Linked DNA regions of Homo sapiens: region 1 is linked to region 2. The links come from fine-mapping of genetic effects on gene expression. A gene starts in region 2. The other region holds a variant in brackets. All regions are shown on one strand. Distances are from middle to middle. Region 1 overlaps WDR62 (WD repeat domain 62). Region 2 holds the start of WDR62 (WD repeat domain 62).

The links. PIP is the estimated chance that this variant, and not a neighbour inherited with it, causes the effect.
Region 1: its variant is fine-mapped to the expression of WDR62 in tibial nerve (GTEx, PIP above 0.99).

The regions. Positions count from the first base shown.
Region 1 is chr19:36,096,431-36,101,801 of GRCh38, reverse strand. It overlaps WDR62 (WD repeat domain 62), which reads right to left. Exons shown (of 32, transcript NM_001083961.2): 21 at 4,723-4,775; 22 at 2,185-2,403; 23 at 927-1,054; 24 at 485-588; 25 at 28-138. Among named protein-coding and RNA genes, the nearest start is that of OVOL3, 12 kb to the left of the region's middle. RefSeq lists an enhancer at 694-1,195. The variant A/G (reference allele first, on the strand shown) is at 2,375.
Region 2 is chr19:36,052,209-36,057,579 of GRCh38, reverse strand. It overlaps WDR62 (WD repeat domain 62), which reads right to left and starts at 2,683. Exons shown (of 32, transcript NM_001083961.2): 1 at 2,432-2,683. The coding sequence starts at 2,608. THAP8 (THAP domain containing 8) reads left to right here and starts at 3,295. Exons shown (of 4, transcript NM_152658.3): 1 at 3,295-3,445. The coding sequence starts at 3,363.

The DNA of each region.
Region 1 (5,371 bases), 44 kb before region 2:
TCCCCTGCGTGTCTGGCCCCTGCTTACCTGGGAAATGGGGCAGCGACGTGGCAAACCGAGGGGCAGGGTCAGGAGGCGGAGCTGGGGAGTGGATGGCTGCGAAGCTGCACTCCAGGTCGGCCTCTGACTCCCCCGAGTCTGAAGGACAGAGTCGGGGTCAGGAGCCCACAGCCTGACCATTCTGGTGAGCCAGGGCCAGGGCTACCCTTCCCTGGGCTCAGTTTCCCCATCTGGAGGAGGGATGGTAAGAGCAGCTGCCCCCCATTTTATGAATAAGGGAAGTTCCACATCAAGGAGGTGGCAGAGCTGGGCTCTCAGCTGTAGGCAGCTGGGCCCAGAATCCTCAGGCAGCAGCAGGGACCACATGTGTCTTCCTCGACAGACTCTGAGCTTCAGTACTGGGTCAAAGTCACCATCGGTGCCCAGAAAGGGGCTTGGCTGAACGCACAGACTGTCACAGGGTCCCTGCCTGCCCTGCACTCACCCTCAGGCGGGCTCTGGTCCTTTGGGCTGTCGGAGGACACCCTGAGGTAGGAGTCGCCCTGCTGGTCTCCAGGCCCGGCCTCCACCTCCTTCCTGCAATACTGGCTGCAGTGCCAGTGGGGGCAGAGAGGGAACAAGGACTTCAGCTGGAGACTCAACAGCTAGCCCCACCCGGAGCCCCTAGGCACCTGTACCCGCTGCTCCTGCAGGAGCACTGCGACAGCCTCCCCGCCTCCTCCAAATGCCCCCTCCTTCCCCCAGGTCAGGCCCTCCTGTACCCCACCTGGAACCAGGGAACTAAGGCTGGGCTCCTGCCCCATCCAGGCCTCAACTGTCCCCACTCCCACAAGCCCACTGGGAAGGCAGAGAGCACTTCTTCCAGGATGCAGCTATCAGCTGGGGGTTCCTCCAACTAAGGCTCCCTTGGTGGAAAGGACACCCACCTGTCTGTCCCTGTGACTGTCACTTCTGCCTCCAGAGAGTAGAGGATGAGCTCACTGGCCTCAGATGATTCCTTCTGCTGGGGCAGGAAGGAGGGGTGCCCGCGGCCAGCTTCCTGGGGACTCTCTGACTATGGGGAAGACAGCACAGCCATTCTGAGGCAGGCATGGCTGGGGCCACCAACAGTGCGCCAGGAACCATGCCAGCAGCCCCACTGCTGGAGGCTGTGAACCAGGGCCTGTGCCATGCCCTCCACTCGCAACCAGCTTGTCCTGGTCTGCCCCTGCATTATCAGTCCCTTTACAGATGAGGAAGAGGTGTGGCACCAAAAATAGGAGGCCCAACCCTCTACGTGTCTATTTATATCAAGTTCAAGAATAGGAAACCCAGTCCTTGGTGAGAGGTCAGAACACTGGTTATCCTGGTGCGGGGACCTGACTGGGAAGGGCAGAAGGGGGTTTCTATGAGGTAGAAAACACTCCAGATTTTGCCCAGGGTAGTGGACACACGTGAATTACACAGATAGTTCATCAAGCTGTATACCTAAAATCTGTGCATGTTACTGGATGTATATTATACCACAATGAAGATGACAAATTATAGGATAGGATAAAAATGAATTTTGTTTGGAAAATAGTAGAGAAAGAGCTAAAGTTGCACGGGCACCTCTAAGAGCCCAGGCCCTATACTTAAGCATGGATTCCTGTAAAAGCCCTCTGGGGCAGAAGAGATTGTTATTACCATTTAAAAACAAAACAAACAAAAAAATTTAAAAAATATTTTTGTAGAGGTGGGATCTTGCTACGTTGCCTAGGCTGGCCTTGAACTCCTCAAGTGATCGTTAAGTAATCCTCCTGCCTTGGCCTCCCCAAATGCTGGGATTACAGGTGTTAGCCACTGCCCCTGACCCCATTATGACTACTTTTTAGAAGACTGAAGCCCAAAGAGGTAAGCCTCTTACTCCAGGTCACACAACAGGAATGGGTAGGGTCAGGGCTCGATCTACCCAAATGTCCCCCACTTGGGTACAAGCCTGCTCTAGCATCCAAGCTCTTAACCCCCAAGTGACCCACTTTCCAAAGACTCCCTGTCTGCCTTGGGAAGTCTTGCTGTGCAACAGACCTGGGGCTCACCCTCCTGCCCTTCACCATCTCATGTAATCCTCCCTGCCCCCATGGAGTGGGAGTCAGCCTAAGGCGCCAGGCCCTGGGGCCGTCACGGTGCCGGGGCTATGGGCCAGGCTGCGGTGGAAGTGTGTACCTCACTCAGCAGGCTGGCCAGGCTCTGTGGCTCCAGTGAATCCAGAATGGAGTTCTCCAGACTCTCGGGCTTCATGGGGGTAAAGTAGCAATCCAGGTCCTGGGCATCCAGGATGGTCTTGAGGGGCTCTTGGCCGGCCCGCTCTGCCCAGCGGCCGTGGGGCTGGTAGCTGCGCTTGGCGTGGAAGGCC[A/G]AGCCATCTGCCACATCATCGTCCCCTAGCTTGAAGGATATCGGACAGTCAGGCAACTGGCTGAGTGCTCACTCACTGCAGGGAGCGACACGGACATTTCACACAGCCCATCTGGACTCTTGGCTTTCAATACCATTCAGAAACAACTTCCAGGTACATATCTCCAGCGTGAACCTTTCTCTGTTTTTTTTTTTTTTTTTTTTTTTGAGACGAAGTCTTGCTCTGTCTCCCAGGCTGGAGTGCAGTGGCGTGACCTTGGCTCACTGCAACCTCCACCTCTCAGTTTCAAGCAATTCTCCTGTCTCAGCCTCCAGAGTAGCTGGGATTACAGGTGCCCACCACCACACCTGGCTAATTTTTGTATTTTTAGTAGAGATGGGGTTTTGCCATGTTGGCCAGGCTGGTCTCAAACTGCTGACCTCAAGTGATCCGCCCGCCTCGGCTTCCCAAAGTACTGGGATTACAGGCATGAGCCACTGCGCCCAGCCCATTTTGTTGGTTTTTGGTAGAGGTGGACTCTCACTATGTTGCTCAGGCTGGTCTCAAACCCTTGGGCTCAAGGAATCCTGTTTCGGCCTCCCAAAGTGCTGGGAATGCCCAGCTGGGATTCATGAACTTTTCTCTGAAACTTCAGAATTGCACATGTGACTGCTCTACATTTCTGTATGGATGTCTGGTAGGTATTTCAAAGTTAACATGCTGACAACTCAACTCATTTCCTCTGCACAAACCTGCTCCTCCTAAAGATTCCCTGTTTCAGTTGTTTTTTCCAGTTACTCATGCCCCAACCTTGGGATCATCCTTCATTCACCTCTCTTATTCTGTCTCTTATAATCCACATTGTCTTTCTTTTTTTTTTTTTTTGAGAGGGAGTCTCACTCTGTCGCCAGGCTGGAGTGCAGTGGCATGATTTCGGTTCACTGTAACCTCTGCCTCCTGGGTTCAAGTGATTCTCCTGCCTCAGCCTTACCAGTAGTTGGGACTATAGGCATGCACCACCATGCCCAGCTAATTTTTGTATTTTTAGTAGAGACGGGGTTTTACCATGTTGACCGGGATGATCTTGATCTCTTGACCTTGGATTACACCCGCCTTGGCCTCCCAAAGTGCTGGGATTACAGGCGTGAGCCACCGCACCCGGTCTCTTTTTCTTTTTTTTTTTTTAAGAGACAAGGTCTCGTTCTGCCATCCAAGCTGGAGTGCAGTAGCACGATCACTGCAGCCTCCAACTCCTGGGCTGAAGTGATCCTCCTGCCTCAGGCTCCTGAGTAGCTGGGACTATGGGTGTGCACCACCATGCCTGGCTATTTTTAATCTTTTGTAGAGATGGGAGTCTCATTATGTTGCCTAAGCTGGTCTCGAGCTCCTGGCCTCGTGGCTTTTACACGTATAGGCTGTTATGACTAGAACATTCGTCCCAGTATCTGCCTGTCTCACTTGCTTCAACTCTGCTCAAACATCATTTTCCCAATGAGGCCTTTCCTGTTTACTTAAAACTGACACCCCCCAACACTCCTTATTTTCTTTTTTATTTTTATTTTTTTTATGAGACAAAGTGTTGGCTCTGTTGCTCATGCTGGAGTGCTGTGGAGTGCAGCTCCCTGCATCCTCGACCTCCCTGGCCCAAACAATCCTCCCACTTCAGCCTCCTGAGTACCTGGGACTACAGGTATGCACCACCATGCCTGGCTAATTTTTTTATTTTTTGTAGAGATGGGGTCTCACTATATTGCTCAGGCTGGTCTTGAACTCCTGGGCTCAAGTGATCAACCTGCCTTGGCCTCCCAAAGTGCTGGGATCACAGGCATGAACCACCGTGCTGGGCCCCTGTTCTTTTTCTCTTTTTTGAGACAGGATCTCACTCTGTTGCCCACGCTGGAGTGTAGTAGTGGTGCCTTCTCAGTTCCCTACAGCCTCAACCTCCTGGGCTCAAGTGATCCTCCCACTTCAGCCTCCTGAGTAGCTGGGACCACAGACACGTATCACTGCACCTGGCTGACGTATTTTCCTTCTTGATTCTTTTCCCTCCACAGCACTTATCAGCACCCAACCTACTACGTCATTTACTTATTTAATGGGGATATTGTTCCTCGCCCACACAGGCAAGTGAGCCTGTGAAGGGAGAGACTTTTGTTTCCCTTGCTCACTGTTGTGTCCCTGACATCCAGAACAATGCCTGGCAGAGAGCACTGATCATGAACAAAGGGCTGTCTCACTGAGCCTGGAAGGATGACAGGGCTTCTCCAGGGAAAAGAGGGACATGGAAAGGAAAAAGGGCTTCCAGAAGGCAGAGCTGGGGAGGCGTTTCCTCTGCCAGCCCCTGAGCAACCCTCTCCCTGAAGACTTACCAGCCGCTTTGCCCACAGTGGCAGCTTGCCGTTGGTTAGCAGGCAACGAGGATCTGGAAAGACACAGAATCCATGAAAAGAGGACAAACAACCCAACAAACAGGCCACATACATAACCGGGCAGTCCCCAAAGAGGCAACACCACAACCCAGAAGTCAGAAGGCTCAACAGCACCGGGGGTTAGGGAAATGCAAACTTAAACCGTGGGATGCGATATTTGACTCACGAGACTGACCGAGGTGAAAAAGCTTAATACTACCAAAGGATGGCAGGAAAAGTGTGGGGACAATGGAGAGCCTAATGCAATGCAGGGTGGGGCAGTAACTGGGTTTGGAGAACTCTTGGGGTTCTCTTTTTTTTTCTTTTTTTGAGACGGAGTCTCGCTCTGTTGCCCAGGCTGGAGTGCAGTGGCGCGATCTCGGCTCACTGCAACCTCCACCTCCCGGGTTCATGCCATTCTCCTGCCTCAGCCTCCCAAGTAGCTGGGACTACAGGTGCCCGCCACCATGCCCGGCTAATTTTTTTTTTTTGTATTTTTAGTAGAGACGGGGTTTCACCATGTTAGCCAGGATGGTCTCGATCTCCTGAACTCGTGATCCGCTCGCCTCGGCCTCCCAAAGTGCTGGGATTACAGGTGTGAGCCACTGCG
Region 2 (5,371 bases):
TGGCACCATTGCACTCCATCCTGGGCGACAGAGTGAGACTCTGTCTCAAAAAAAAAAAGGAACAAAACAGTTGAGGAAACAGAGGCCAAGAGGGGTTACCCATCCAGGAAGGGGTAGTGCCAGGATTCCAACACAAACAACCAAGCCATGGCACTCATGTTGTCTTATCTGTCGATCAGCATTACTGGGCCCTGGTATGAATGGTCACTTTTAGACTAGGTCTTTGCAAGACAGATCAACTCTGTGCTGCCAAACAAAAAAAATAAATAAATATTACCCCAAATACACAGTCATAATATCAGTATTAGCTAACATGAATAGAGTACTTGCCATATGCCAGTGTTGTTCTAAGTGCCTAGGATATGTAACCTCATTGAATCCTCACAAATACCCTATGAGAGATTTCTACATCATTATTCTCATTTTACAGATAAGAAAACTGAGGCACAGATAAGTTCATAACTTGGCGGGGCACAGTAGCTCACGCCTGTAATCCTAGCACTTTGGGAGGCCGAGGCAGGCAGATCGCTTGAGCTCAGTAATTCAAGACCAGCCTGGCCAACACGGCGAGACCCTGTCTCTACCAGAAAACACAAAAAAATTAGTCAGGTATGGTGGCATGCGCCTGCAGTCCCAGCTACTCAGGAGGCTTGAGGCAGGAAGATCACCTGAGCCCAGGGAGGCTGAGACTGCAGTGAGCCGAGATCAACCCAGTGCACTACAGCCTGGATGACAGAGTAAGACCCCATCTCAAAAAAAAAAAAAAAGAAAAGAAAAAGCGAAGTTCATAACCTGCCAGGAAGAACAGGACTAAAGTTTAAGCTCAGGCTGCCTGGGTCCAACCATACCATCAGCAGCAGTCTGTGCTCTTAGCCACTTTGCTATAACGCCTCTCTGAATTTGCTATTGTTATATGTAGTTTAATAGCTCAAAGGGCACTTTCAGGAACATATAAGATAAAGGCTATGAAGTATAGGGTGCTGGGTGACAGATGAAGGTGGCTGTTTGCTTTAGAATGGGGTTCGAGAAGGCCTTTCAAGATAGCGACATTCAGGCTGAGACTTGAAGGATGGGAAGGAGCCAGACAGGCAGATTGCAGCAAAAAGCCCAGGCTGAGGACTCACCAATCACAAAGGCCAGGAGGCAGAAAAGAATATGGAGCCTCAGGAAAACCAAAAGCAGGCCAGTGTGACTGAACCTTGGTGACAGAGAGCACATGGGAGGTACAGCCAGAGCCCTGTAGCCAGGAGTGGGCGGTATAATCACAGTGCAGGAGAAAGTCATGGGGCAGGAACAAGCTCCACCAGCAGCTACCAGGTATCCTCCCTTTATCTGGACTCCGTGCCAAGAAGATCACAATTAAAATTTCATTTCCCTCCAATGCAATAGTATAATTTATTTATTTATTTATTTTGAGACAGAGTCTCACTCTGTCGCCCAGGCTGGAGTGCAGTGGCATGACCTCAGCTCACTGCAACCTCCGCCTCCCAGGTTCAAGCGATTTCTCCCGCCTCAGCCTCCTGAGTAGCTGGGATTACAGGCGCGCGCTAGCATGCCGGGCTAATTTTTCTACTTTTTGTAGAGACGGGTTTCACCATGTTGGCCAGGCTGGTCTTGAACTGATCTCAGGTGAACAGCCCACCTTGGCCTCCCAAAGTGCTGGGATTACAGACGTGAGCTACCGCGCCCTACCAGTAGTATGGTTCTTATCATCTCCATTTTATAAAAACAGATTTTGTGCCTACACAGCTGGAAAACAATTTTTTTAATTGCCGCTGTGCTAATGGAATTCCTTCTACCTACTGTGAAATCATTTCTTTCCATTTTTCTGTCTCAGGATTTAGGGAACTGTTCTGTACGCCCTCCTCCCCAGGCAGCACTGCAGAGATTTTATAAATAACTTCTCACGTCTTTCTCATAGTTTTGAGTGACAATATGGATTAAGAATCCCACCTTGGTGAGGAAAAAGGATAGAGATCGCAGAAGGTGAGAGAAGGCGGGGTAGAAGCGAGGAAGAGTTGGGGCAGGTAACACTCTGGACCGAACCCTCGAAGGGACCTTAATGACTCAGCGGGGGCCAGGGCAGTGAGGCTGCAGTGAGCTATGATCGTGACGTCTAAAGGCGATAGAACGGGGGTTAAAATATAGCAGGACTAGGCTGTGATTTACAGAAGCAAAATGCATTTCCACGGGTGGGAACCAGCGAGGAACCCCCGAATTGCTCCAACGCTGAGGGTGGAGCCGGGAAAGCAGCGAGGAGAAAGTGGGAGGGGCCGTGGCTAAAGGGGCGGGGGTTAGGGGACGAGGCATGGCAGGGAACAACCTGAGGGGACTGGCCGGGGGCTGATGTCGGGGCCACAGTTCTCAGGACGGGACTAGGGGAAACCTAGGAAGCCTGGAACTGGGGTAGACATGGCGAGCAGCTTCTCACCCGGTTCTGCACCGTCTCCTCGGAGGCCGTCGAGAGTCGCGTCCGCCGCCGTAGGCAGATTGGTGGGGCGGGGGGCGGGGAGGACTGGCCCCTCCGCGCCGGAACTCCCGCCATGACAGAGGGCAGCTTCTCCCCTGCATCGTTCCGCGCATAGCCTCCGGACCCTACGGCCGCCATCGTCACGCCGGAGGCGGGCGACCGTTACATCCCCTAACCGCCGCTGCCGCCACCGCCACGACCCACTGGAACAGCGAACAGCCGCGGGAAAGCCGGCGCCACCGCCTATTGGACGCGACGGGCCCGGCCTAGCCAATCGCAGGGATGCCGGGCGGCGCTTAGAACCAATGGGGGCGAAGAGGCGGAGCGAGTGCCTGGCGGGGCGGGGCCACAGCCAGTGTACTGGATGCCTGATTAAGCGTCATGGGGTCTTTCATCCAGACTGCGTTTTCATTATTCGCTGAAACATACAGGTTTTAATTTTTACGAGGCTAAGGCCACGGCCGCCTCACCTCGGTTTTTGCCGCCACCTAGAGGAACTATGTGCGCCCCAACGGTTGCCCGGATGTAGGCGTAGGGTGGAGCCGTAAGAGATTGACTAGCCAGTTGATTTGGTTGGCGCAGGCTCAGAAACGCCGTGACGCCGCCCTTCCCCCCAACACGTGATGAAAGTCGGGGTGACGAAGGGCCGGCTTTGCGCAGGTGCACAGTACTCGCTATGGCCCATTCGTCACGTGACGAGGGCGGGACTGTGGCACTGTGGAGGGGCGCCTAGTAGGCAGGCGCTCTCAGCTCTCTCCCCGGTACGTGACGAGACTCCACGGACGTCACGTGAGGCAGGCGGCGAGCGCGGGTGGGGCGGGGTTAGGCGGCGCTCCGCGAGAACCAAAGTGCAGCCGCTGACCCGGCAAAACTCAGCGGGGGCTGGATAGCCATGCCCAAGTACTGCAGGGCGCCGAACTGCTCCAACACTGCGGGCCGCCTGGGTGCAGACAACCGCCCTGTGAGCTTCTACAAGTGAGCGCAGCGCGGGGCGGGGCTTGAGGGAGGCGGGACCCTGAGAGGGGTGGGGCCCGAGCATTAGTGCTGCTGTGCGGGGCTTCTGGTCTTGCTTGAGGGTGTTAGGAAGTGGGGTTAAACCATGAGGAGATGGCCTTCCTGGCAGTGTCCATTGCACATACAAAGGTGCAGGCGTGGGAAACAGGAGTAGACGATTGACTACAGATAGCGAGCGAAGCGAGCCGAAGAGTGAAAGGGATGTAAGAAGTGAAGTCGGTGCAGGCTGTTAGAGAGCCTGCAGATGCCCACTTGCCCTCCCCACGCATTTGAGCCATCTGAAACTCAGAGCATCCGAAACTGAGCTTGCGATCGTGTCTCCCCAAAACCTTCCAGTCTGTCTTATCTTAGTAGCGTGCTTCATTCTTCTTGTTGCTTAGGTTTAAAAAATGTCATCCTTACCTCTTTCGTCATACTTGGGAAAGTCAGAATTAGCTTCGACTGTAAAAGATCTGTCTCCTTATTTATCTGGCTGACATAAGCCAGTTGGTGGAAGAATTACTAGGAAAAAACATTTCTTTGCTTTTTTTTTTTTTTTTTTTTGAGACAAGATCGCTTTGTCGCCCAGGCTGGAATGCAGTGGAACGATCACAGCTCACTGCAACCTCGACCTCCCGGGCTCAAGTGATCCTCCCACCTCACCCTACCAAGTAGCTGGGACCAGAGGCACGCGCCACCATGCCTGGATAATTTAAATTTTTTTTTTTTTTTTTTTTTTTTTTTTTTTTTGCCAGGCTTGGTGGCTCACGCCTGTAATCCCAGCACTTTGGGAGGCCGAGGCGGGCAGATCACCTGAGGTCAGGAGTTCGAGACCAGCCTGGCCAACATGGTGAAACCCCGTGTCTACTAAAAATACAAAAATTAGATGGGCGTGGTGGCTCATGCGTGTAATTCCAGCTACTCCGTGGGCTGAGGCAGGAGAATCGCATGAATCCAGAAGGCAGAGGTTGCAGTGAGCCAAGATGAGGCCACTGCAATCCAGCGTGGGCAACAAGAGTGAGACTCCGTCTCAAAAAAAAAAATTTTGTTTTTAAAGAGAGAGATGGGATCACCCTATGTTGTCCAGTCTAGTCTCAAACTCCTGGGCACAAGCAGTCCTCCTGCCTCGGCCTCCCAAAGTGCTTGGATTACAGGCGTGAGCCACTGCACCCAGCCAGGAAAAAATATTTCTCTTGGACATACTGCAGATGTAAAGTGGCAGAATTCCCATCCTTTGAGTGTCTACTGCTTTCTTAGTAGGAAACTTTGGTTGTCTAAAGTCAGAGATGATCACAAACTTTGCTGTTTGAAATCACATCAAGTAAGAATGAAACATCTCACTTTTGCTTGGAGGAGCTAAGTCACTTTGACACAGAAAAGCAGTCCCTATTTACAATCCAGGTTTGGAGCTTCAGATAAGGACACAATATTCTACATCTATGTAAACTTTATTGCATCTGAGAAGACAAACCCTGGGCCCACTTCACCATCCGGACCTGATATTGATCCCTTTACACACAGTTCTGATTTGCTTTGAGGCAATCTGAACACTGCTTAGTTTACATTTCACCTAAAAAATAACTCTGTTTGTTGAGACTCCCTCACAAAACAAAGGCCCATAGGGCCTATGGCAGTGGTCCCCAACCCTTATGGCACCAGGGACTGGTTTTGTGGAAGACAGTTTTTCCACGGATGGGATAGGGTTGGGGGAATGGTTTTGGGATGAAACGCTTCAGATCATCAGGCATTAGATTCTCATAAAAAGCGGGCAACTGGCCAGGCACAGTGGCTCATGCCTGTAATCCCAGCACTTTGGGAGGCCAAGGCGGGCAGATCACGAGGTCAGGAGATCGAGACCATCCTGGCCAACATGGCGAAACCTTGTCTCTACTAAAAATACAAAAATTA